Linked DNA regions of Homo sapiens. The protein of the gene in region 1 purifies or fractionates together with the protein of each later gene. This does not show direct contact. Each region holds a gene or a part of one and is shown in the gene's direction. Other genes may lie near its edges.

Evidence for each region.
Region 2: the proteins of TRNT1 (region 1) and MTX3 purify together in Homo sapiens (affinity purification with mass spectrometry; one large-scale study listed by BioGRID and IntAct). This does not show direct contact.
Region 3: the proteins of TRNT1 (region 1) and DPYD fractionate together in Homo sapiens (co-fractionation; one large-scale study listed by BioGRID). This does not show direct contact.
Region 4: the proteins of TRNT1 (region 1) and CLNS1A fractionate together in Homo sapiens (co-fractionation; one large-scale study listed by BioGRID). This does not show direct contact.
Region 5: the proteins of TRNT1 (region 1) and PYGL fractionate together in Homo sapiens (co-fractionation; one large-scale study listed by BioGRID). This does not show direct contact.
Region 6: the proteins of TRNT1 (region 1) and GNPDA1 fractionate together in Homo sapiens (co-fractionation; one large-scale study listed by BioGRID). This does not show direct contact.
Region 7: the proteins of TRNT1 (region 1) and TBCE fractionate together in Homo sapiens (co-fractionation; one large-scale study listed by BioGRID). This does not show direct contact.

The regions. Positions count from the first base shown.
Region 1 is NC_000003.12:3,129,940-3,133,439, forward strand, and holds part of TRNT1 (CCA tRNA nucleotidyltransferase 1, mitochondrial), read left to right. Parts: exon of another isoform or gene 1-740; intron 741-3,500. UniProt on the Homo sapiens protein: Nucleotidyltransferase that catalyzes the addition and repair of the essential 3'-terminal CCA sequence in tRNAs, which is necessary for the attachment of amino acids to the 3' terminus of tRNA molecules, using CTP and ATP as substrates. tRNA 3'-terminal CCA addition is required both for tRNA processing and repair.
Region 2 is NC_000005.10:79,988,463-79,992,616, reverse strand, and holds the start of MTX3 (metaxin-3), read left to right. Parts: upstream 1-1,354; 5' UTR 1,355-1,378; coding exon 1,379-1,459; intron 1,460-1,953; coding exon 1,954-2,023; intron 2,024-2,380; coding exon 2,381-2,457; intron 2,458-3,372; coding exon 3,373-3,465; intron 3,466-3,972; coding exon 3,973-4,154.
Region 3 is NC_000001.11:97,918,235-97,922,319, reverse strand, and holds the start of DPYD (dihydropyrimidine dehydrogenase [NADP(+)]), read left to right. Parts: upstream 1-1,285; 5' UTR 1,286-1,397; coding exon 1,398-1,436; intron 1,437-4,085.
Region 4 is NC_000011.10:77,631,295-77,634,794, reverse strand, and holds part of CLNS1A (methylosome subunit pICln), read left to right. Parts: intron 1-3,500. UniProt on the Homo sapiens protein: Involved in both the assembly of spliceosomal snRNPs and the methylation of Sm proteins.
Region 5 is NC_000014.9:50,906,484-50,909,983, reverse strand, and holds part of PYGL (glycogen phosphorylase, liver form), read left to right. Parts: coding exon 1-89; intron 90-1,028; coding exon 1,029-1,163; intron 1,164-1,646; coding exon 1,647-1,713; intron 1,714-3,500. UniProt on the Homo sapiens protein: Allosteric enzyme that catalyzes the rate-limiting step in glycogen catabolism, the phosphorolytic cleavage of glycogen to produce glucose-1-phosphate, and plays a central role in maintaining cellular and organismal glucose homeostasis.
Region 6 is NC_000005.10:142,000,171-142,003,027, reverse strand, and holds the end of GNPDA1 (glucosamine-6-phosphate deaminase 1), read left to right. Parts: intron 1-898; coding exon 899-999; 3' UTR 1,000-2,357; downstream 2,358-2,857. UniProt on the Homo sapiens protein: Catalyzes the reversible conversion of alpha-D-glucosamine 6-phosphate (GlcN-6P) into beta-D-fructose 6-phosphate (Fru-6P) and ammonium ion, a regulatory reaction step in de novo uridine diphosphate-N-acetyl-alpha-D-glucosamine (UDP-GlcNAc) biosynthesis via hexosamine pathway.
Region 7 is NC_000001.11:235,433,427-235,436,926, forward strand, and holds part of TBCE (tubulin-specific chaperone E), read left to right. Parts: intron 1-777; coding exon 778-854; intron 855-2,318; coding exon 2,319-2,414; intron 2,415-2,959; coding exon 2,960-3,024; intron 3,025-3,117; coding exon 3,118-3,182; intron 3,183-3,500. UniProt on the Homo sapiens protein: Tubulin-folding protein; involved in the second step of the tubulin folding pathway and in the regulation of tubulin heterodimer dissociation.

The DNA.
Region 1 (3,500 bases):
ACTGAAGGAAGAAGGAAATAGGAGTTGCCTCCATTGTGCACGTTGCAAAACCTGTCTGGAAGGAGCATAGGAAATGGCTTTAGCTAAGTGCCAGTAGCTTCTTGCTGTTGCCACAGTTTCATTAGTGTTGATTCTCAATGTTGTCTGCTGATGTTGCTAAAGCAGCCACACAGTAGCATTACAAAGCCTGTGGGAATTTTAATAGCACCTTCATAAATATATTTAGTAGTATATGTAGAAATATGACCTATACAGCACTGGCTATCTATTAGATTCACCTGGGGAGCTTTTAAAGCACACATGCTCGGGTTCTACCTGCAGCCTACTGAATTAGAATCTCTGGGTGGGATGACCATCTATATTTTTAATAAAAGCTCCACAAGTTAATTCTGATGCACAGAAGATAGACGAACCATTACTTTAACATGACTCACCTTGTATTAGCTTATTCTCAAAGCTACTTTCCCATTCTTGAAATTGGATGATGGCTTTTTAGGTACGTGCCAGAGATAAATGGCCCAGAATATGTTGATTCTTTTAGATTGTTTTAGGCAGACTTTAAGTAGAGGGCTTAAATGCATGTTTGGTTTTGCCGATGCTTCACTATCTTTTTTAATTGGAGAGAGTGAAAATTGCTAAAAATTGCTGTCCAATAGAAATTTATGAGCCCATATGTAATATAAACTTTTTTACTAACCACATTAAAAAGATAGAAATGGTGAAATAAATTTTAATAATTATTTTTGGTTCATCTAATTTAATCCAATATATCTAAGATACTATCAGTATGAATTTTGTATAAAAATTGTTAATGAGGCCGGGCACAGTGTCTCCCACCTGTAATCCTAGCACTTTGGGAGGCTGGACATGGTGGCTCATACCTGTAATCCCAGCACTTTTGAGTGGCTGAGGTGGGTGGATCACTTGAGCCCAGGAGTTTGAGACCAGCCTGGGCAACACGGTGAAACCCCATCTCTACTAAAAATATGAAAAATAGGCAAGCATACTGATATGTGTCTGTAGTCCCTGCTACTTGGGAGGCTGAGGTGGGAGGATCACTGAAGCCTGGGAGGGGGGCTTGCGGTAAGCCGAGATTGTGCCACTACACTCCAGCCTGGGCGACACAGACCGTGTCTTTAAAAAAAAAAAAAAATTAATGAGATATTTTATATTCTTACTTGGAAGTCTTTGAAGTCTGGCATGCATTTAATACAGCACATCTGAATTCAGACTTACCACATTTTAAGTGCTCAGTAAGTACAAGTGGCTGCTGTTTGAATAGTGCAGATTTTGAAGCTGTGATTTTGGGTTGAGTTGAAGCTTTTTTCTTTCTGTGTATGCCCTTCACAGCCCCCAATTTTTCAACTTCAATTGCAAGAGGCCTCTTGGAAGAAGGAGTAGTAATTAACTCTTGATGGCCTAACTCAGGTCATTCTGCATTTTTTGGAAATAAGGTTCTAAATATTGATTACTATAGTTTCTTGAACATCATTTTAACAATTGTGTTTAACGTTCTAAACCTGAAACTGGCTAGCCATATGTAGAAAGCTGAAACTGGATCCCTTCCTTACACCTTATACAAAAATCAATTCAAGATGGATTAAAGATTTAAACGTTAGACCTAAAACCATAAAAACCCTAGAAGAAAACCTAGGCATTACCATTCAGGACATAGGCGTGGGCGAGGACTTCATGTCCAAAACACCAAAAGCAATGGCAACAAAAGCCAGAATTGACAAATGGGATCTAATTAAACTAAAGAGCTTCTGCACAGCAAAAGAAACTACCATCAGAGTGAACAGGCAACCCACAACATGGGAGAAAATTTTCGCAACCTACTCATCTGACAAAGGGCTAATATCCAGAATCTACAATGAACTCAAACAAATTTACAAGAAAAAAACAAACAACCCCATCAAAAAGTGGGCGAAGGACATGAACAGACACTTCTCAAAAGAAGACATTTATGCAGCCAAAAAACACATGAAAAAATGCTCATCATCACTGGCCATCAGAGAAATGCAAATCAAAACCACTATGAGATATCATCTCACACCAGTTAGAATGGCAATCATTAAAAAGTCAGGAAACAACAGGTGCTGGAGAGGATGTGGAGAAATAGGAACACTTTTACACTGTTGGTGGGACTGTAAACTAGTTCAACCATTGTGGAAGTCAGTGTGGCGATTCCTCAGGGATCTAGAACTAGAAATACCATTTGACCCAGCCATCCCATTACTGGGTATATACCCAAAGGACTATAAATCATGCTGCTATAAAGAGACATGCACACGTATGTTTATTGCGGCACTATTCACAATAGCAAAGACTTGGAACCAACCCAAATGTCCAACAATGATAGACTGGATTAAGAAAATGTGGCACATATACACCATGGAATACTATGCAGCCATAAAAAATGATGAGTTCATGTCCTTTGTAGGGACATGGATGAAACTGGAAACCATCATTCTCAGTAAACTATCGCAAGAACAAAAAACCAAACACCGCATATTCTCACTCATAGGTGGGAATTGAACAATGAGATCACATGGACACAGGAAGGGGAATATCACACTCTGGGGACTGTGGTGGGGTCGGGGGAGGGGGGAGGGATAGCATTGGGAGATATACCTAATGCTAGATGACACGTTAGTGGGTGCAGCGCACCAGCATGGCACATGTATACATATGTAACTAACCTGCACAATGTGCACATGTACCCTAAAACTTAGAGTATAATAAAAAAAAAAAAATTAAAAAAATAAAAAAAAACATATACCTATTGAAGGAAAAAAAAAAAAACACAAAAAAAAAACACTGGATTTTCTCCACCCTGAGAAATGAGGTCCTAAGGAAGTTAGAGCCTAAATGGTGTGGTAAGGTAGAGGTGGTGATTGCTTCCAGAGTCCTGTCCTTGAAGGACTGGCAAATGAGAACATGGATATATTCTAAAGTTGACTTTTTCTAGGCTACTGGAGAAGTGGCAAGAATGGAATCTTTTAGTGCAATGATCAACAAGTTAGAATGTCAAAGACTTGGGTGCCCTGGTAAAATGTAATGTTCTGTATAAAATCAAAATGTACAAAAACACACAGCCTTTCTGATGGCTGCTATATAGTGATACTTGGAGTTTAAATCCTGTACCAATTTTCAAATCTTAATAGCTGCTTTGCCATGTGTAAAATTAGTTTTCAGTATGCAAGAATATGAGAGACTAGAATAGTGTATTATTGTCATATCATAAGGGTTTTATAATTTGTCAGGTTATTTTATGTATCTTTTTGCTTCAGTACAATCATATGCTAGTGGCATAGAAGATTATTTCCCAGCTAGCTGTGGTAGCTCATGCCTATAATCTCCCAGCACTTTGGGAGGCCGAGATGGGAGAATTGCTTGAGCCCAGGAGTTAGAGACCAGCCTGAGCAACATAGTGAAATCCCATCTGTACAAAAATAATAATAATAAATTTAGCCAGTTACAGTGATGCACACCTGTAG
Region 2 (4,154 bases), on another chromosome or scaffold:
GTTTCGACAGTTTTAATGGTACATATGTTATGCATTTTCCAATTATACAGTTATTATTAATGAATTCTCATTTCTGACATATCTCTTTTTCATTTCTTAGAACTCTTGGTTTTGAAACATGTAAAAAAGACTTTAGCAGGCTGGCACTGTAATTTGAATGATTATGTAAACAGTAAGGGAGTGCCTAGCAAATATTTGTTGAATAGTAATTTTACGAAAAGTTGCAGAGGTTTCTTTTGAGTTTTAGTTAAGAAGATCCGACCATCTCAGTGGAATAGAGGAAAGAACTCAGAGGCATGACTGCGAGGGTGTCCCAGAAAGACTACTGTGCCTTCTAGAAAAAAGACCCAGCACCCAAGTTCTAACTCTGAGACCCAGTCATATGTTTGGATCATAGCATTTCCAAGACCAAAATTTCCTCTTTAATAGTTTTTCTGAGAAACTGTCAGGTTTAACGTCAAGAAACATTTAGTCTGTGCTCATTAGGCCCACAGACATGACGAGCTACATGATTTGAGGGGCCCAGTCCAAAATAAAAATGCAGAGCCCCTTGTTCAAAACTTAAGAATTTCAAGACAGTGACGGAAGAGCATCAGCCAAATGAGGAGCCTTTTTAAGCACAGAGCCTTGTGTGGCTGCACAGGTCCCAAACCTATGAAGCTAGCCCTCTTCTGTGAAAGGCAAAAGGTCTGTAGCTAGGGAGAGAAGCTACAATTCAAATATGCACAAGGGGCTACAAGAACCCAGAGCTCCTAACTTTGTAAAAACATCACAGGGAAGGTGAGTTAAGCTCATTTTTGAGGGAGCAGCTGCATAGGGAAGAAAGATATTCCAGATTGAAGGACCAGCACTGAAGGTGGGCACAATTTACCTGACGTTCAGAAATACTGTAACTTTTAAGCAGGGTTGTGCCAGTGAACATGAGGGTGAGAACAGGTTGAGGCTGGAAAGGCAGGCAGAGGCCACATACATGGGAGAAGGGGTTGAACAATTACTGAGTGCCTCCTGTGTGCCAAGTTCTTTCTCTCCGACATTGTAAATACCACAATCTTGTAAATACTGGGTCATCCCTGTTTTACAAACAGGTTAATTTAGGCATCACACAGATTTAATGTTCAAAGGGTTTGGAACACTCTAGGGATCTAATAAATATTAATATTTGAAGAATTACTGGTGGGTCTGACTTAAGGCACACAACTCTTACCCTTTAGGCCAAGCTGCTCCTAAGAGTTCTTCTTAATCCCTCCAGTCGTTGTTTCTCTCATCTCTCAAGAGCCCCCAAATTACCCTTCCCTCCCTTAGCCACGCCCCCGCGTTTCACGTGCCGGAAATTAGGAGGAAAAGTACTTCCGGGATAGTAAAGGTCGGCCCGCGCAAGATGGCGGCCCCCTTGGAACTCAGTTGCTGGGGAGGCGGCTGGGGACTCCCATCGGTTCACAGCGAGTCCCTGGTGGTGATGGTGAGGCCGCCTCGCGGGCCAGGGCGCAGGAGGAAGGGGCGGGGCTGGAGGCGCCAGGCTGACTTGCCCCAGTTTCCCGCTGCGCTGCGGGGTCCAGGAGGGCCGAGCCGCTGCACGCTGCATTGCCCTGGGCTCCCTCCCACCGACGAGTCCCAACCTGGCCGATACCCCCGCCGAAGGCCGGCGGCGACATCAAGGCTTCTCCGCTTGGCTCCGAGTTTTGTCCGCCTCACAAAGCTGTCTGGGCGGTGGAGTGAAACCCCGAAGCAAGGGGCGCGCCCTCCCTACTCTGCATCCCCAGGACCTTTTGGGGAGCAAAGTCCTCGAAAGCCGGGTGGCTGGCGCCCGCGTCCCTACTTGAGATCACGGGGAGGGATGCGGCCTCAGTATCAGTCGCCTTCTGCCTTTGGGGGATGGGGCTGTGAAGTAAAGCTGCTCTGCAGCTTTGCATTACGCACTTGGTCTAAAATGTTTGATTGCAAACTCTGTTTCAGGCTTATGCCAAATTTTCTGGTGCACCCTTGAAAGTCAATGTGATAGATAACACCTGGAGAGGTTCAAGAGGTATAGTGTAAACCTTTACACTCCCCTTTCTGCACTCTTTTTTTTCTTCTTCCATTTAAAGCTGTGAGGTATATAGCTATAATATTGAGGATTTAGTTTCTTACCGTGACCTTGGCTCTGTGTTGTTTATGGTTTGATCATTCTGAGTAATACCTCAAAGTGCAAGCGAAATCACTGGAAATTATGAGAAACGAAAATGTTCTTTAGAACCGCTCTTTGTGAAACAGCAAAAAAACCAAGACAAGCTTACTCATTTTTTCCCCTCTAAATGTGCAACTGCTATAGTTTTTAGGATATTGGAATCTCTCAGAGGAAATCACACTGTGTCCTTGTATGTAAACTGTTTTTTGATTATAGGCGATGTACCAATTTTGACAACTGAAGACGACATGGTTTCTCAGCCAGCAAAAATACTAAACTTTTTAAGAAAACAGGTGGGTGGTTCACTTTGAAGAAGTAGATTGGTAGATTGTTGATCCCTGCATGTTGGGCTTTATTTTATTTATTTATTTTTTTTTGCCAACTCATTAGACAATTGGAGATACCTGGGACAAGATGTAAAAATAGATTTGAGAATCACTGCTCTAAAGCATGAGTTCTGTGATTTGAAAGTCATATGAAGAGGTAGTCAGTTTATATTTTAATAAACTTTGCTTGAATTTTATTGAAATTTGTATGTAAGTAGATTTAATTAGCCATTTTCACTATTAAACTTATTGATAGGATTGTGTATTTTGTCACATAGTTGGTACACATTTTGTGCTGGGCATGACACCTGAGCTCTCACCAACTAGCAACTATATTATTTTTAAAAAGCTCTTAATAGCAGTTTTATGGAATAATGTATCTAAATGTTTTAACAGTAGAGAATTATGTATCCAAAATGTTTAAACATGTAAAGATTTATATGAATGGATAAGTTATTTGTTTTGCCAATACTGTACTTAAAAAAATTGTGTCAATAACATTTTGAACTTTTATAAATTGGAAGGTTTTTTCTTTTGTCTTGGGGAGAAACACAGCCAATTGGAACTGTTTCCTTCTTGTTAAAAATAATAGTTGCTTTGTTTGTACTACATGCCATGCACTGAACTAGGTCATTAACAAGCATGAAAATAATAGTAGTTAATATTGTAACATTTATTGACCATATTGTGTATGTGATGCTGTGCTAAGAACTTTATGTGCATTAAGCAATAGGTTTCACTGGATTTGTATTTCTCTTTCTCCCATTTTAATACCACGTTTGCTATTTGTAAGGAAAAATATGAATCCTGATTTGATTAGTTTTACTGTCTTTGGGCTGCTCTTTGACTTCTGAGTTTCTTTGGTTTATTTTTTTTTAATAGAAATATAATGCTGATTATGAACTCTCAGCAAAACAAGGGGCAGATACATTGGCTTATATTGCTCTCCTCGAAGAGAAGCTTCTCCCTGCAGTGGTGAGTGTTCTTAAATATTACAGTATTTTAGTAGCCTAGTTGCAAATGTACATAGTCTGTTTAGAAAAAAACCAATGAGAAAAGTCTTAAGAGAAAATTTTACTTATATGTTAATCTTAATTCCTTCATATTACTGTGAAACTGGATTCTGTTAGGCATTCAACTAGTATGTGAAACAACAAAGTAAAATAAAATGTCATGTTGGAAATTCTTTGTGGGAGATGGATCTTTTTGCTCCATGTATAGAATTGGGTGTAATTCATTCATTCAACAAATGTTTATTGAACACCTGCTATGTGTCAGGCCTTGTTCTGGGTGTTTGGAAGATAGCAGTCAACAAAACTCACACATTTAAAATAATCTTGTTTTATCCTGAGTCATTCTAACTGGAAAATTTGTATGAAGACACTTCATATAAAGATATTTATGAAAAACTCTCATGTTGATTGAGTGATCTTTCATTTAATAAAAGAACATCCTTGTAGTGTTTTTTCTCTTCTTTTGCAGCTTCACACATTCTGGGTTGAGAGTGACAATTACTTTACTGTGACAAAGCCATGGTTTGCTTCACAAATTCCTTTTCCTTTGAGTTTGATCCTGCCTGGAAGAATGTCTAAGGGAGCACTGAATAGGATTCTCCTGACCAGAGGACAGCCTCCCCTCTACCACCTCCGAGAAGTGGAAGCACA
Region 3 (4,085 bases), on another chromosome or scaffold:
CAAAGATGATTCTAAGGTTTCCATTTAACTTTCTAGTGTCTGTTAATATTTGATTCAAGAAAAATGTATCTGTCTTTTAGTAATTTCCAGGTTCTGGAAGGTAATCTGATGGTTTGTTCAGAGAAGCCTTCTCAACCACGCAAGGTACCCATACCCTAGTTATTCTGTCCTATTTTTCTTTTATCTTACAAGCAGGCATCACATTTTCTTACTTGCTTATTTTGAGTATAATCTCCATGACAGTGATGTGTATTCTTGAAGACTATATCCGGAGAACCTAGCACAGTGTCTGTGTCTGGCATATTGAAAATGCTCAATAAACATATTCGTTGAATAAAACGATGAATGGACTAATGAAAAAATAATAAGGGAGAAATACTTGACTCCAAGGTGTCACTACCTAGCCAAGTGCATGAAGGAGTGCCGCAAATGTCCTAACGGAAGTAGAAAGTGTTATGGTAGAAGAGAGGTGGGATGCATCTAACAGGGGTGGGGGGGGGGCGGGGAGAAAAGGAGAGAGGTCTGGAGTACACATATCCTCAAAAAACGAGGTGAATGTTTTCTGGATTGGGACCAACTCTACAGGAAATCTCTCCCTTCTCCTCAGCAAGCTCTAGAGCAAAAACGAAGAGCAACTTTTCAAAAGAGTTTCACGTTTTAGAATAAAAAATATTTAAAAAAATAACCATTAAAATGAGACTTTCCTGCAAAAAGACAACCTTGATTATGTACCACCTGCAGCACTTCCTGTATGCTGCTGCGGGCTGTGGATGTTTTTGCTCGCCTCCCTCCCCTCCCCGCTGGGGCTGTGAACTCTCAGAAGACCGGTGCTTTGGTATCCTCCACTGCAGCTCAAACCCCGCCCACCTACTTGGTGGATGGATGGAGGAACATCTACTATTTCATCCTTGAGGAGTTCCTGAAAATGCAGTTGCCCCTCAAACAATGTATCTACATCTCGCGGGGTTTCTGTGGAAGAAAAGAAAAAGTGCAAGTTGTTGCTTGGAGCGCGGACTGCTTTTACCTTTGCCTGGGGATCCCTCCTATCTGGCCCCGCCTGCCTAGCTCTGTTTTTAGCAGTTTAGAGATTAAAGGCCAGTCCCCAGAGCGGGTGCTCTACTCCCTCCCTCCCTTCTGCTTGCAGGCTGGGGCGCGGAGCGGGCTGAACTGGGAAGGCCGGGCTGCGGCTGCCGTGCCTGGCGCGGGAGCCGCAGGACCGAGAGCGCAGCCCCGCCCCGGGGGCGTTGCCGCCCCGCGCCCGCTCCGCCCCCGCGCCGCCGGCCCTAGTCTGCCTGTTTTCGACTCGCGCTCCGGCTGCTGTCACTTGGCTCTCTGGCTGGAGCTTGAGGACGCAAGGAGGGTTTGTCACTGGCAGACTCGAGACTGTAGGCACTGCCATGGCCCCTGTGCTCAGTAAGGACTCGGCGGACATCGAGGTACGGACTTCGCGCCGGCTCGTCGGTGGTGGCGGGGTGGTGGGGAGTGCTCTGCGGGTAGGTGCCGGGGAGGCCCCCGCGGCCCCCGCACCCCGGAGAGTGAGAGACGCGGGAAAGTTTCCCCCGTGGGAGCTCTGCGGGGGAGCGGAGGAGCGCGGAGCCACAGGCCCGCGTGGGCAGGCGGGGAGCTCAGGGGAGGACTTTCCGCTACTGGAGGGGTTGCCCTTTGCGTCGGGACCTGTTTACTTCGGAAGAGATTTCAGGAAGCCTGTCTTGTCCTCCTCTGAATGTCAGTGACTGAAGAAGCACTGGAGTTCCAGAGAGGTGGACTCTAGGGGGTAGGAGTGCCCATTTCCCACACGTTCTACCCCTTCACCTCCTGTATGTCGTTTCTGGACACCTCCACTGCCCCCATTTCCAATAGCTGAATCCTGCTATTTGCAAAGGTGAAGCATAGAAATAAAACATCTGTGTGTCAGCTGTAGCAGTCGCCTCTAGTCATAGTATTGTTTATGAAATAATTTAACATGGAGAGAATGGAACGAAGTATTCAGAACATGAAAAATGCAGTGCCCTCAGAAAAACTAACTGTATTTTTCTCTCCTCTCAACGGTTTTTGATTCCCTCTTGCACTCCGTTTCTGTTAAAAAAAATCTTTTTTTATGTAAATAAGGTCCTACCTGAAACGACATGGCATTTCCTTTCTCTCTAGTATCTTAATATATGCGATGAAAAGGATTTAATTATCAACAGTGATTTTACACATACTAAACCTAGGTCAGCACTTTTGAGCTAAGACAAACTGATTTTTAGTTTTCTGTTTTGTTTGGGGCTTTTCTTTATTTGAGTCTTCTACTCTGGTAGAAAATTATGTGTGTGTGTGTTTTCTTTAGAAATAACAAAATTTTCCTTTCGTCAGTCCTTTTGGCGGCTTAAGTAAAAGTTTTGCAAACCACCTGTTTGCAAAATAGCTGCTTTTGCCACATTTTGCCTCCGTAATTGAAGAAACTTTATATTCTGGGAGGAAGTAGTCCTGTTTTCTCCAGGCTCCATAACTTGGTTTGAAAAATCATTTTAGTAACAAGAGCCAAAGTGTATTATGTGGACATCTCTGGTTAGTTTACTTTTGGTTTCTGTTTTGGAGAGTTGACTTTTTGATATTGAGCAATATGATATATTTAACAAATAGTTGTTCATCTGTGTGCAGGATAATAGATACTTGTCTTTTTCTATATTTCATTTAGGGTAGTCTATTCCTTTTTGGTCCTTGTGACTTTGACTTAACTTTTTAAAAAATTTTATTTACTAAGTCGAAAAACAAGCTTCTGACAGTATTAAGGCAGTATTGATTTAAGATATCGGAGTTGACTTAGGATGGGTGGCTTTTGGCTCTTTAATTTCAGAATGGTGTGTTATCTGCTTAACTGATTTCTTTCTCTGCAGTTGTCTTCGAAATCAGTTCTTACATTCTACTGAGGAGAAAGATGCCAGTGAAACATTGAATGCCAAGCTTGATTTCATATATTGTTTCAACTAAGAACATTTAAGAAGCCCATCCTTCCCACTCCCTCCACTCAATTCAACCTTAGTCTATATGGCCAGTTTGCCTAATATTACTTTTAATCTAGATTGCTGGTGTTCAAACACCTTCAGCTCTTATGTAGTTCATATGTGCAACACTTTAATCAGTAACATCTTTCATCACTCACAGCACCTTACTTTTCCCTCAAAGTAATACCCGTGATTCATGAGCTAGAATACCATGAAAGAGCATGAAATTAATCATTAAAATATAATGCAGTGAGGAAAAATACATTAAGCTTAGGGGAGCACATTCAAGCATAAATGCCTCAGTTGATCCTATTGATTTACCAAAGTTCATTTTTGTGTTGAAGAATTAGAATGAATTATAAAGGCTCAGTTTTCCATCAAATTTGAATGCTTTTCTTGAACAAATTCATTACAACCATTGTCTAGAGATCTGATTGTGATCATTGTTTTAGCTTCAAATACATGGATAAGCAAGTAATATTTTAAAAATATTGGTATGAAGCAGTTAATGAATGTGATAAGAACACATTGATAAATGTGAAAAGTACTTGACAATTGTTAAAAGAACAGAAGGTGATGATAACAACCTACTCTAATAGTGACTGACTTTTCCCTATGAGCTAACTACAGAACCTCAGGTTTCAGTGAAACAGCCAAGAAATATCTTTGTTTCTGGGGGAAAAGTTATTGAGGTATATATAAAGGTGCTTTGTGTGCCTGCTTCATAATTTCTAGTCTGAATCCAATATCACATCAGGATTTGACGGTTAGGAACATGGAAAACAATCAGATCACCAAACTCCATAGCTGGAATATCCCTGGGCTGGGAGATAGGCAAGGAAAGGATGTGTTACTTGGTAATAGGACCTAGCTCATTACTCAGAATTGTTGTTGTTGTTGTTGTAATCATAGAAGTTGCATGAGAAATCATGTTTTTTTTCAGATATATTAATGTGGTTCAGAGCCTGGCTTCTGAAACCAACTGCCTCTGATTGAGGTCTAACTTTAAGCTGTGTGTTTGGGCAAGTTAGCCTCTCTGAATTGCACATGGAAAATCTGCTAAGGATAATAAACAAATGTCACAAGTTGACAGCATCT
Region 4 (3,500 bases), on another chromosome or scaffold:
ATTTGTTTCAGCTTTTCACAAACAAATCTCTTATGTTTCTTCTTTAAGATTTTTTTTTTTTTTTTTTTTTTGAGACAGAGTCTTGTTCTGTCGCCCAGGCTGGAGTGCAGTGGCGCGACCTTGGCTCACTGCAAGCTCCGCCTCCCGGGTTTAAGCGATTCTCCTGCCTCAGCCTCCTGAGTAGCTGGGACTACAGACGTGCTCCACCACGCCCAGCTAATTTTTGTATTTTTAGTAGAGACGGGGTTTCACCATGTTGGCCAGGCTGGTCTCAAATTCCTGACCTCATGATCCACCCACCTTGGCCTCCCAAAGTGCTGGGATTACAGGCATGAGCCACCGTGCCCGGCCAAAATAATTTTTTTGTGTGTGAAACATAAATACAAAAAAAGGGTATAAATACACACACATACTGTGTACATATATATACAGTCCAGCCGTTCTTCATCTGAGGGAGTGAGGGAGAATGCCCAGAGATGATAAAGCTGGAGAAGGAGAGAGTCATGTTCATAAATTTGGCTTATAGCCTTTAGGCTTTGGTGAAACTATTTAGTTTGAGGCAGAGAGGGACAGCAACAGATTAGGTTTGGCTGGACTTGGTTTAGTCTCTCAGATTTGTGTTGAAAGATTTAGAATCTCCGGCTTATTTCAGAGCTTAGTTTTTTATAGGAAGTTGAATTTTTTTTTTTTTTTGAGATGAAGTTTCACTCTTGTTGCCCAGGCTGGAATGCAATGGCGCAATCTTGGCTCACCGCAACCTCCGCCTCCTGAGTTCAAGCTATTCTTTTGCCTCACCCTCCCGAGTAGCTGGGATTAACAGGCATGCACCACCATGCCTGGCTAATTTTGTATTTTTAGCAGAGATGGGATTTCTCCATGTTGGTCAGACTTGTCTCAAACTCCCGAACTTAGATGATCCATCTGCCTCGGCCTCCCAAGATGCTGGGATTATAGGTGTTAGCCACTGCACCCGGCCAGGAAGTTGAATTTTTATCCAAATAAGGAAGATACAGAGGCATGAATAATATAAAATAGACAGTTTAAAACAGGTAAAATAGGTAATCAAATTAAAATTAGGTAATTTAAACTTAAAATTTTTTTTTTGTATCTCATTCCAAAATTAATCTTAAACCAAATAATTAAGTTAACCCAAATTCAAGACCTCTCTTAGCTTCCTGTCCTGTTTTTCATCCCGTGCTGGGAATAAAGGACACTCACCATACTTGTGCAAAAGCATTTGAATTCAGCAAAACATGTTCTCTACATGTTTACTCTGTGTCTAATTCTTCTTGTCTTTCCCTTTTGACTCACGGTTTCTTTGGAACTGGGTATGATTAATTAAATGTTTTAGAAGGATTTCTTCTAGAATATATACAAAGAGTAAATGCAAATCAGAATTTAATGATCAGACAAAACAGTTATATTTTTAGATGATACAGTGAAATCTTTTATGTTTCTCTACATCACTTTGAAAGTTAGAACTTGAATACTTTCAGTAGATTTATTACAATCATCCCAGCAAACTTTAATGGCAGCATGTCTGGCCTATTTCATCGTGGCCTCTGCTAGAATTAGAAAATCTGGTGGTGGTGCAACAAATAATTCATGTGCAATAGGATTTAATTTGTTGTTAATAGGTATTTGTTCAAATTAAAATTGCCAGATTAAATGAATGTACTGTCAAATCTCTTTTTTTTTTTTTTTTTTTTTGAGATGGAGTCTCCCCGTTGCCCAGGCTTGAGTGTGGTAGCGTGATCTTGGTTCACTGCAACCTCCGCCTCCTGGATTCAACCAATTCTCCTGCCTCAGCCTCCCAAGTAGCTGGGATTACAGGTGCCTGCCACCACACCCAGCTAATTTTCGTATTTTTAATAGAGACAGGGTTTCGCCATGTTGGTAGTCTGGTCTGGAACTCCTGACCTCAGGTGATCCATCCACCTCGGCCTCCCAAAATGCTCCCAAAATTATAGGCCTGAGCCACCACGCTCGGCTTATAATGTCAAATCTTTTTTAACATAGTAACATGCTGTTGGAAAAAATAAGTTGTTGAAAGTAAGTTGTTTTCCCATTTAAAAATATCTGTGAATATTAATATATGATTTGCATTTGTAAATCTGAAAAAGTAAAATACAGAAACCTAGGGTTTCTTTTCTTTTTTTATTTAAAAAAAAAAGAATTTAACGATTAGAATAAGTGTTTTTAAGTGTGGAACTTGGCTTCTGTCCTATAGAATGCATAATCCCAGTTCATGTAAAAGATTATGAGAGTTCCATAGCAAATGCTGTGCAGAGGAGCATTTGTATTCTCTCTGCACTAGTAAGGAATTACAGAGGTATTATGATGGCTTTTAAAAGTGAAGGCCATAATTTGATAGGCACTCATTCTATGTTTAGGTTTCAGTTTTTCCATGTCGTCATTGAGTCATTCAAGTTTTATGGCTCTGGATATTTGAAATTATTTTGGACACCCAAATTTGGAATGTTTCTTTCTGAATTGTGATAACGCCAGAAAATTTTTGAGATCAGAAAAGGGCAGTTTATTTGCTTTAAAATAATACAGCTTTTGTAGGGGACTCGTGATACTTGGGCATTATTTCCTCTCCACATTAAAAGGAAAGCAGTGGGCAGGAAAGATGCATACAGCACATAACCTCATTACATAATACAATGTTTCTTTGGAACCAGTAGGAATGAGTTGTTCTGGAAAACAATTTGTAGAGGTTTTATCACTTTTAGCTCTTTAAGATTTATCACTTTTAGGCCAGGCGCAGTGGCTCACGCCTGTAATACTGGCACTTTGGGAGGCCGAGGTGGCAGATCACCTGAGGTCGGGAGTTTGAGACCAGCCTGGCCGTCATGGCAAAACCCCATCTCTATTAAAAATACAAAAATTAGCGAGGCGTGGTGTCACACGCTTGTAATCCCAGCTACTTGGGAGGCTGAGGCAGGAGAATCGCCTGAACCCTGGAGGTGGAGATTGCAGTGAGCCAAGATCATGCTACTGCACTCCAGCCTGGGTGACAGAGTGAGACTTCATCTCAAAAAAACAAAGATTTATCACTTATAAGCTTCCTAGTTTTCCTTTACTTTTTTTTTTTTAATAAGAATGTTGGATAGAAATCTTTCCACATGACAGTGCATATATTCTTACTTTTGCCTTTTGAAAGTATACAATTAGGGGCAGGGTGTGGTGGCTCATGCCTATAATCCCAGCACTTTGGGAGGCCGAGGCGGGTGGATCACGAGGTCAGGAGATCCAGACCATCCTGGCTAACACGGTGAAACCCCGTCTCTAAAAATACAAAAAATTAGCCGGGTGTGGTGGCGGGCGCCTGTAGTCCCAGCTACTGGGGAGGCTGAGGCAAGAGAATGGCGTGAACCCGAGAGGCGGAGCTTGCAGCGAGCCGAGATCCGCCACTGCACTCCAGCCTGGGCGACAGACCGAGACTCTGTCTAAAAAAAAAAAAAAAAGTATACAATTACGTAAGTTTTAGTATATTT
Region 5 (3,500 bases), on another chromosome or scaffold:
AATGTGGAAATGGCAGAAGAAGCTGGGGAAGAGAACCTGTTCATCTTTGGCATGAGGATAGATGATGTGGCTGCTTTGGACAAGAAAGGGTAAGAGAATAGCTTCTCTTTGCTAGGCAGGACTGCCCCTCCCCCCTAGAAGGTATGTGACCTCAGAGGGCTTCCTGCCCACACCGATATCCCACTGAAATTGGATCACATAAGAGGTGGCAGCAGAACATCTCCCACGATGAGGCAGGAGAGCCTCCTGGCCACAGATTAATATTATTAAACCCAGCAAATAAAAGTACAGACACATGGAGGAGTTGCTATTTGTTATCGGCCATTGCAGAGCTGGCCTCAAAGAGCTATTTTTCCTCCGTATGTATGATTTTTACTTTGATCAAAAGATGAACCAGTTTCTAGTTGGAAGGGTTGCCTATAATTTAAATCATGATCTAGTGCTCCTTTAAGATATCAAAGAAATGCACTAAAATGTGATAGAGAATAGATACGGGTGTACAGAAGTAATTGGAAACATTTATTTTCACTTCATATCTGGATGGGTTTATTAACCTGAGTTCAAGCACAAAATAAAGAGTACTGCCCAAAGAAGTAACATTTGGAGGATGTTGAATATACTTCCTGACCCTTGGAAGTCAGTTTCACTCAGTAGCAACAACTTTTGAGAATCTGTGGATCCAAAAAGCAACTGATCTACTTAATACAATGTTCATTTAAAGCCATAAAGTCTGCTTTGAAATGGACCTTGCTGTATTCTACCACATCAGACTCTTGATGTTTGACTAGAGTTTTCATTATCTATTGTTCTTAGTGTCTTTGGTTATAAGGAATCAAATTTACAGGAAGAAAAACTTACAGATCTAGTTAAAAGTTATATATACTCATGGTGAAATCTATAATGAAGTCTTTGAATGCTAGTATTTCTGAATGTATTTTTTCACAGTGAATGCAGTGTCTAGTGTGTTGTTAATCACACAACACAATAACAGAGCCTTTTTTTATCACCCACCCACCCCTACCCCACAGGTACGAGGCAAAAGAATACTATGAGGCACTTCCAGAGCTGAAGCTGGTCATTGATCAAATTGACAATGGCTTTTTTTCTCCCAAGCAGCCTGACCTCTTCAAAGATATCATCAACATGCTATTTTATCATGACAGGTGAGTTCCCATAAGAAGATGGTGCTATTTGGATCATGAAAGGGGGACAAGAAAATCTTAAACCAACCAACTCTAAAACCAACAAGAAAATCTTAAACCAATCTTAAACCAACTTAAACCCACTCATGTAGATTAGCATAGATTAGCGTGATCTGCTCAGGTAGTTTAGGCTTGGGGAAAAAGTTAGATATTCTCCACCAGCGATGCCAGTAAGGTTTAAGAATAACACACACAAATCTGGTTCTCTTTTTCTCCTTCCACTGATATTCCCAACTTCCAAATGCATCCCAGTGATGACATTCTCACATGTGAGAACCATAAGAAGGTTGAGGGCTGGTTAAAAGTCTTACAAACAGAAATATGAATTTGGTAAACCAGCCATGCCTGATATTAAGCAAAAGATGATTTTACATGGAATTTTAGCATATATCTATTAATGAAGATTTTGACTGTTTTTTTCCTCTTCCACTCACAAAATAAAAGGTTTAAAGTCTTTGCAGACTACGAAGCCTATGTCAAGTGTCAAGATAAAGTGAGTCAGCTGTACATGGTGAGTAAATTGCCAAGATTTATAAAGAAAACCAGTTTACTATGATTCATTAAAATGTGGGTTTTTTAATTAAATGCAAATATCAGATCCCCATGTAATATCAGATCCCCATTAAGCAATCAAAAAAAAAACAACAAAAACAAACAAACAACCACAACAAAAAAAAAAACCTTGTCTTTTCCCAAGTTCAGGCCAAGGTTGAGATTTGACATTTCAGCAGGAGTTGTAATTTTTTTTTTTTTTTTTTTTTGAGACAGATCTCGCTCTGTCACTCAGACGGGAGTGCAGCGGCGTGATCCTGACTCACTGCAACCTTCACCTCTCGGCCTCCCAAGTAGCTGGGATTATAGGCACGTGCCACCACACTTAGCTAATTTTTGTATTTTTAGTGGAGATGGAGTTTCACCGTGTTGGCCAGGCTGGTCTAGAACTCCTGACCTCAGGTGATTCACCCGCCTCTGCCTCCCAAAGTGCTGGGATTACAGGTGTGAGCCACCATGCCCAGCCAGTTGTAAATTTTTTAATATCCAAGTTTTTTAAAAGTCACAAATAATTCAATATTTTTTGAGCACCCACTCTGTAGCAGACATGTCCTGGAAGCTAAGGAAATAAAGCCTCAGAGGGGCATTAGGCGTCTTTTTTATGCCGGGCACTGTGCTGGCACTGAGAACACAGCATGAGCAAAGTTGAGGTCTCTCCCTCCCTCCCCTCCCTCAAGGAGCCTGTTTGAACATCGAGATTCTTAACCAGAGGTACACATCAGAATCACCAAGGTAGCTTCATCATAGTACAGATGCCAGCCCCCGCACTGAGAGATTCTTTCCCAGTAATGGGTGGGGTCATCAGTATTTGAGAAACCTGCCATGATGATTCTAAGGCTAAAACATGGTTTTTTAAGATAAGGACTGACCCCTATTCTCTGAAAATTGCAAAATAGGTACCTCTTCTGGACTTCTCATGGAGGGGGCTGTATCAATAGAATATAAATTCGTAGAAAGAGAAAGGTGTTCATAATTGAATTTTTAAAAAAAGAAAGAAGAATAAGGAAGACAATACTATACTGAGGGGAAAAAAAAGGGATGGGTAGAGCCATGTGAATAAGCCTCTGCATGCAAAGTTATACGCTTTATCAAACAACTCTCTAGCTGTGTTTTGTAAATATGTAAAAAGGTTGATCATCTCTGATAGGAGAGACTTTTAGTGAATTTCAGATACCCTAGAGGAATGGATACTGGAGGGGGCTAGCTCTGTGCCAAGACTCCAGGGTGGGTTTTACTAACATTTCTTTCTACTCCTTTCCCAAGGCAGATAAAAGGGTAGTTCCTACTGTCATCCTAAATGTCCCACTGGGATTTTAAAAAGGATCATTCAACGCCTGTGCTGCTTTACAGCCCTTATCTTCTAATAGAATAATGGCCAGTCCCCCAGTGGCATATAGACCAGAATAAGTTCAAGTTAATGGCTACAAACAAGCAGGGCAGTGCTAGAGCTAAGCTCAGGGGCTCACTACCTGCTTCCTGTACATTGGAGAGAAAAGCCATATACAGGCCGCAAGAATGCAAAGACACAGGGAAGAGAACGGCCACCTCAAGACAGATCAATAAAACAGCACAGGAAAGAAAAATATGAACAAGGGCAAGGACAAATGTGAATGTCTCCTCTGTTAAAATTATGGCCCAAATCCAAACGATGCTCATCTAGAAACCCAGCATTTGATTCGGTCTTTCTTGTTCATTAGTGCTAATTGCAGCTTTTTACTCTTAACAATGATTGTATTGTTGAGACTT
Region 6 (2,857 bases), on another chromosome or scaffold:
GTAGATCCAGCTTTCATCCTCTGGTCATTTTAATTGACAACTGTAATCTTAAGAAATATCAAACCCAACTGCATCACACTACACAGTCATTTCTCTTCTGCCTGTGACTGCAAAGATCCATTTCTGGAGATCTGTTTGCTCTGAGGAGGAGGAAAGAAAACGCAATGTGGTCCAAGGACTATGTGGTGACCTCACAGTGCCATTAAGCCTCAGGTTTTCTCTTTTCAAATCTTAAACAAGCGATTCCTTTCTTTTATTTACTTTCTTTCTTTTTGAGACAGGGTCTCACTCTGTCGCTCAGGCTGGAGTGCAGTGGTGTGATCTCAGCTCACTGCAACCTCCACCTCCCGGGCTTAAGTGATTCTCCTTGCCTCAGTCTCCCAAGTAGCTGGGATTACAGGTGCCCGCCACTATACCCAGTTAATTTTTGTATTTTTAGTAGAGGCGGGGTTTTGCCATGTTGCCTAGGCTGGTCTCAAACTCCTGACCTCAGGTGATCCACCCACCTCGGCCTCCCAAAGTGCTAGGATCATAGGTGTGAGCCACGATGCCCAGCCCTTCTTTTACTTTAAAAGGATGCACACTGCTTTAGGCAAACATGTGAAAATCCTCTTTTACTCAAGTAGGTCAATTAGGAATTTGTCCTTTGCTGAAAAGACTAACCTTTAAATAGCCAACTCCCATAGTGATTGAATTTATAAAAGTTCCATGAATGTAGTACTCACTGTGAATAACTCTTTTTATACTCTTAGGGTGTTTATCATTTGGGGATCATAGAGAAAAGAGAGAAGTGTCAGCTCTAAGACAAAATTTGAGAGCTCCTGGATGTTATGATTGATAATCAAGGAACTCTTGCCACTGCCTGAATTAACTACTTTTTGTTTTTAATTTTTTGTAGGTTTAATGCTTGTTCATAACAAGTTGGTGGACCCCTTGTACAGTATCAAAGAGAAAGAAACTGAGAAAAGCCAATCTTCGAAGAAACCATACAGCGATTAGCCTGTGCTGGGACCTAGTGTCAAGTACCCATAGGGAAAGGCAGGTCTTTCTGGAAATTGTCTTTAGAAGAAAGAATTGTATTTCTTTAATCTAGTATGGTTACTCCAGATAAGTGGGTGAACTTATTGTTCTTGGCCATGAGGCTGGGAGCCTAGTCACGGAGTTTAGCTATAGGGAGAATGTTTGTAACTTAATCAGAAAAAAAATATCTGCAAAATGTACTCCATCATTTTGATGTCTGCCAAACCCAGGTTGGGAGTTTTAAACTTTTTGTTCTGCTTCAGCCATGGTTCACACATATGACACACTCCCGTCAGGAATTTCTCTCCTTACACGCACTGATTTTCAAGTGGGAGGGAATTAGGGGCTTATGTATATTGGATACCACCTCTTTGAAGAGTCTTGAGAGTCCTTCTTGCACAGGCCTGCCCCTTGGTTGAGAACCATTGTTCCAAGTGAAGGCACAAACTCTCAATATCTAAAATAAGTGCAAGGAAGCAGTCTCTTTGGTCAGTAACAAGTGCAATGGAAAGAAAACGATCCCTTCCTTCTTCCACTTTCACAGCTTTTCTCTGAACTAGGAGAACCTGGGGGTGGATTTGGGTGGGTGGGGCCAAAGAGGAGGCTTCTATTGATAAATCCAGAGCCTCAAGGGGCCCAGCCACGTCAAACTTCTCTCCCTCAGGGACTCTCCAGCACCAAAAGGCAGAAGGTGGAAGCCGTTTTTCCCCCAGAGCCCTGTGTTTTTGTGAAAGCCTCACTGTGGCTCCTCTGTTTTACATACTCATTAGTAAGTGGGAGGTCCACTGGGGCAACAGACACTGCCACAATTTCAGTGTTGTGTTCAGCCAAGGGGACGGTCTGGGCAGGCAGCTTAAGTGTGAGTTTAGTCACAACTCCTGAGTGTCCCGCTCTCCTGCTTACCTAGGAGGTGAGTGCCAGGAAAATACACCAAATGCTTCTAGTATTGTTTCCCCACTTAAAATAGTCCTGCTTAAATTCACATGGTGTGGTCTGATGTTCTGAGAGCATCAGGAAATACAACCCTTTTGCCCATTTACCCTTCTCCCCGGATCCCAAGGTGGTCTGTTGCTCTGGCTTCCTTTCATTGTCTTAGGCCTTCATGGAGTGGATGCTGCCTCCTCCTGGCTGTTTTTGTGCCTGTTTGAAGCTACTGCTGCCTCCATTTCTGGGAAAGACCTTTGAGAGCCTAGCCCAGGCCTAAGGGCTATGTTTGGTACCAGTGTTTTGTCTTTAGCTTTTCTATGTGATTGTGCCGTCATTCTGTTTTAAGCTCATGGATCAATGGATTTGTTTACAATGTGATATTTTCTATTAAATCCAGTATTTTCAAATAACATGTCATTTGTGGATTTGAGCCCCCAATTTTAGAAGACTCTCTGGGCTATTTATATATTTTAGAAAGAGCTGGTAAGCAAAGCCTCACATTCAGTCCTCACAAGAGCCTGCAGGAAGGCCACAAGCATAGCAACCATCATCAGAGTGAAAAATAAGATTTTATGAAAATGGAGCACTTACAGGAAAAAGGGTAGGAATGAACAGATGAGCAATAAATTGTCATGTTGGGGCTGTACCTGAGATCCAAACGAGGATACAGCTGTTATAAAGATTAAGGCAGATTTGTGATGAGGGATATTATTGCAAGGTATGCAAAAATACATATAGGTTTTTTTTTTTTTAAAGTTAATATAATGGAATATCTTAGGGCAATATAGCCAATTAAGGAGGTAGATATAGAAGTTAAAAGAAGGGTTTAATTTTTTTAACTATTTTGAGGCTGGGTGCAGTGGCTCATGCCTATAATCCCAGTGCTTTGGGAGGCCAAAGCAGGAGAATC
Region 7 (3,500 bases), on another chromosome or scaffold:
GGCCAGGCTGTTCTCAAACTCCCGACCTCAAGCATTCTGTCTGCCTCAGCCTCCCAAAGTGCTGGGATTACAGGCGTGTGCAACCATACCCGGCCATTTTTGTATTTTTAGTGGTAATGGGTTTCATCATGTTGGCCAGGCTGGTCTCCAACTCCTGACCTCAAGTGATCCACCTGCCTTGGCCTCCCAAAGTGCTGGGATTACAGGCATGAACTCACTGTGCCCGATCTCAAAGAACTTTTGATTGGAGAGAATCATGGATGTAGAATATTTGTCATAAATATATAATGAAAACTTTAAAAAATGTATAATTAAAAAAATAATGAAAGAAGAAATAATTGTTGAGAAATTTATGAAAGGATATGAAAAATTAGCATATCCTTTACAAACCCAGATTGGCATTTAGAATTGAGGAAAGGTGTGTAACATCAATTTACTTATTTTGGTTAAGCAAATTCTATCAAATAATAATATGTGCAGTTAGTATCTCCTGTTCCACCTCGTAGCTGCTTTACCTAAACCATGCATTGACACGTACCTCCAAGGCCTCAAAGTGCCCACAGTGTGTGCTCCCACAGCATTAAAATGCACCCCCTTAACATTTTATTTATCACCCCCCACCACTATTCCAGGCCTGAAACAGTCTTATGAACTGTCCGTGAGGCACTTGTTTGCTGAAACAGTAACTGAGCTGAATTCTTGTGGTGGTTCCTATGAACACCCGGGAAGAAACAGCCAGCAGAGGCCGCCTGAGCCTGAACCGAGTTTCTCTTCCAGGTGCTGCGGTGTGTCGCGGGGTGCCCAGGCCTGGAGGAACTCTACCTTGAGTCTAACAACATTTTCATTTCCGAAAGGTAACTAGCACTTACTTAAATGCATCTATCCCCATTTAATCATCATTCTGAGTAAATAAATGGTCTCAATTATATCTAACCTTAATTTTTAGAAGGATTTGCAAACAAGAATTAGGAAAAATGCTTATTATTCATTGCCTTCACAAATTAGAATTTCACTAATTGGTTCTAATCAAAGGAAACTCATCAGAATTAAATATTTGTGAAGACATGAGTTATATTAGTTTTGCATCAGTGTATTAACTTGCTGTTTCTTTTTTTTCTTTTTCTTTTTTTGAGACAGAGTCTCACTCTGTCGCCCAGGCTGGAGTGCAGTGGCGATCTTGGCTCACTGTAACCTCCGCCTCCTGAGTTCAAGCGATTCTTCTGCCTCAGCCTCCCGAGTAGCTGGGATTATAGGTGCCTGCCACCATGCCCGGCTAATTTTCTTTATTTTTAGTAGAGACGGGGTTTCACCATCTTTTACGGGGTTTCACCATCTTGGCCAGGCTGGTCTCGAACTCCTGACCTTGTGAGCCACTGTGCCTGGCCAACTTGCTGTTTCTAAATGGAAGTTCTGTAGGATATGCTATAAGGATTAAATAATGTATTTTTCATTAGCATCATCTGTTTAAGGTCATTGTACCAAAGTACATGTAAAACTTTGTTCTCTGAAATATATTGTTGCCTCATCTCCTTTTTAAATTAATAATATTAAATTACTATGTAAAATTAACCTAACTGTGGGAAAATTTACAACAGATTCTGAATTAAAGGATTCAGAATCTTAAAGATTTTCGTTTACAGAAGGGTTTCATTATGTAGGCAAATGCAGGTTTTTTGTTTTGTTTTTTTTTTGAGATAGAGTTTCATTCTTGTCACCCAGGCTAGAGTGCAATGGCACCATCTCGGCTCACTGCAACCTCCACCTCCCTGGTTCAAGTGATTCTCCTGCCTCAGCCTCCCATGTAGCTGGGACTACAGGCACGTGCCACCATGCCTGGCTAATTTTTGTATTTTTAGTAGAGACGGGGTTTCACCATGTTGGCCCGGCTGGTCTTGAACTCCTGACCTCAGATGATCCACCCGCCTCGGCCTCCCGAAGTGCTGGGATTACAGGTGTGAGCCACCGTGCCTGGCCTGCAGGTTTTTTAAATTAAATTTTTTTATTTTGAGATAATCATATATTCACATGAAGTTTTATAAGAAATGATACACAGAGATCACTTGTACCCATGACCCAGGTTCCCCCATTGGTAACAAGTTGCAAAACTATGATATAGGATCACAGGCTAGGTGTGACACTGATACCGGCAGGAATATGTGCATCACCACAGGGACCACTCAGGTTGCCCCTTTACAGTCATATTTACTTGCTTCTTATCCCCAGCCCTCCATCGCACCAAATGCAGGGATTTTAAGGCTGTATCTTTGAAAACAATTAAGAGATAAATTCACGGTGAAAAAATTTTATTTTCCATACAGGCCAACAGATGTTCTCCAGACAGTCAAGTTATTAGATCTTTCCTCTAATCAATTAATTGATGAAAATCAGCTGTATCTGATAGCCCACCTGCCCAGGTAATTTGCCCCTAAATGCCTGATACAATAGTGTTCAGTCAATTCTTAGTGAAGCAGTTTTCATATGCTATGTATGCTTTCTCAATAGAAACGTGGTAACAATGATGGAATTTCTAAATTGAGTAATTCCCTTTGGGAAATTTTCATTTGAATTCATTTAGAAAATTTACTTGTGAACCCTGTATAATGTGGACTATGTCTGTACCAGATAATTTGAAGAATGAATAATTTGACCCTGGTGATAATGCGGAAAGTCTTCATTCATTAAACTCCGGGCAGTAGACCGTGTCTCTTTCCTCTGAGACGCATTTAGCACCTGACATAGCAGTAGGTACTCAAGAACCATTAGGTGACTATGGAGTCATTAGAATACAGGATAAAGAGTTCACTTTGCATGTCCTAAGTTGGACTTTATGGTTTCTAAGTATTTTACATGGGATTAAAAACCCAGGGTGTAGGAAAAAAATTTACAAACCGAGTCTGGTTGATACCCCATAGCATTTTACATTGTTCTGTGTAATCAAATTGTACATTTTGAATTTCAGGTTAGAACAATTAATCCTCTCTGACACTGGAATTTCTTCTCTACATTTTCCGGATGCTGGAATTGGTATATAAGATTAGTAAAGTTCCCCACTGCCCCCCCACACTATACTTCAGCTACTTTCACTTCTACTGTGTAACTTCATTCCTCTTTTTATAGGGTGCAAAACGTCCATGTTCCCATCCTTGAAGTACCTGGTAGTAAACGACAATCAGATATCACAAGTAAGAGCTGCTCGGAGTATGCCCAGCACACTGTTGCCTCTTTCCACTCTCATGGCAGAGTTTGGAGGTTCCTTCTACCAAAAAAGTAAAAAGAAATTTAAATCGAAAGAGAAATACCTCCTCAGAGTGAAACTCCTCATAAGAAGCCAAAAATATTAAGAAAGAAATTAGTTCACTTCACACTTAAGTGGACTTCACACTTAAATGGCACATTAATAGAGTAAAAGGGGCCGGGTGTGGTGGCTCAAGCCTGTAATCCCAGCACTTTGGGAGGTCGAGGCGGGCGGATCACCTGAGGTCGGGAGTTCGAGACCAGCC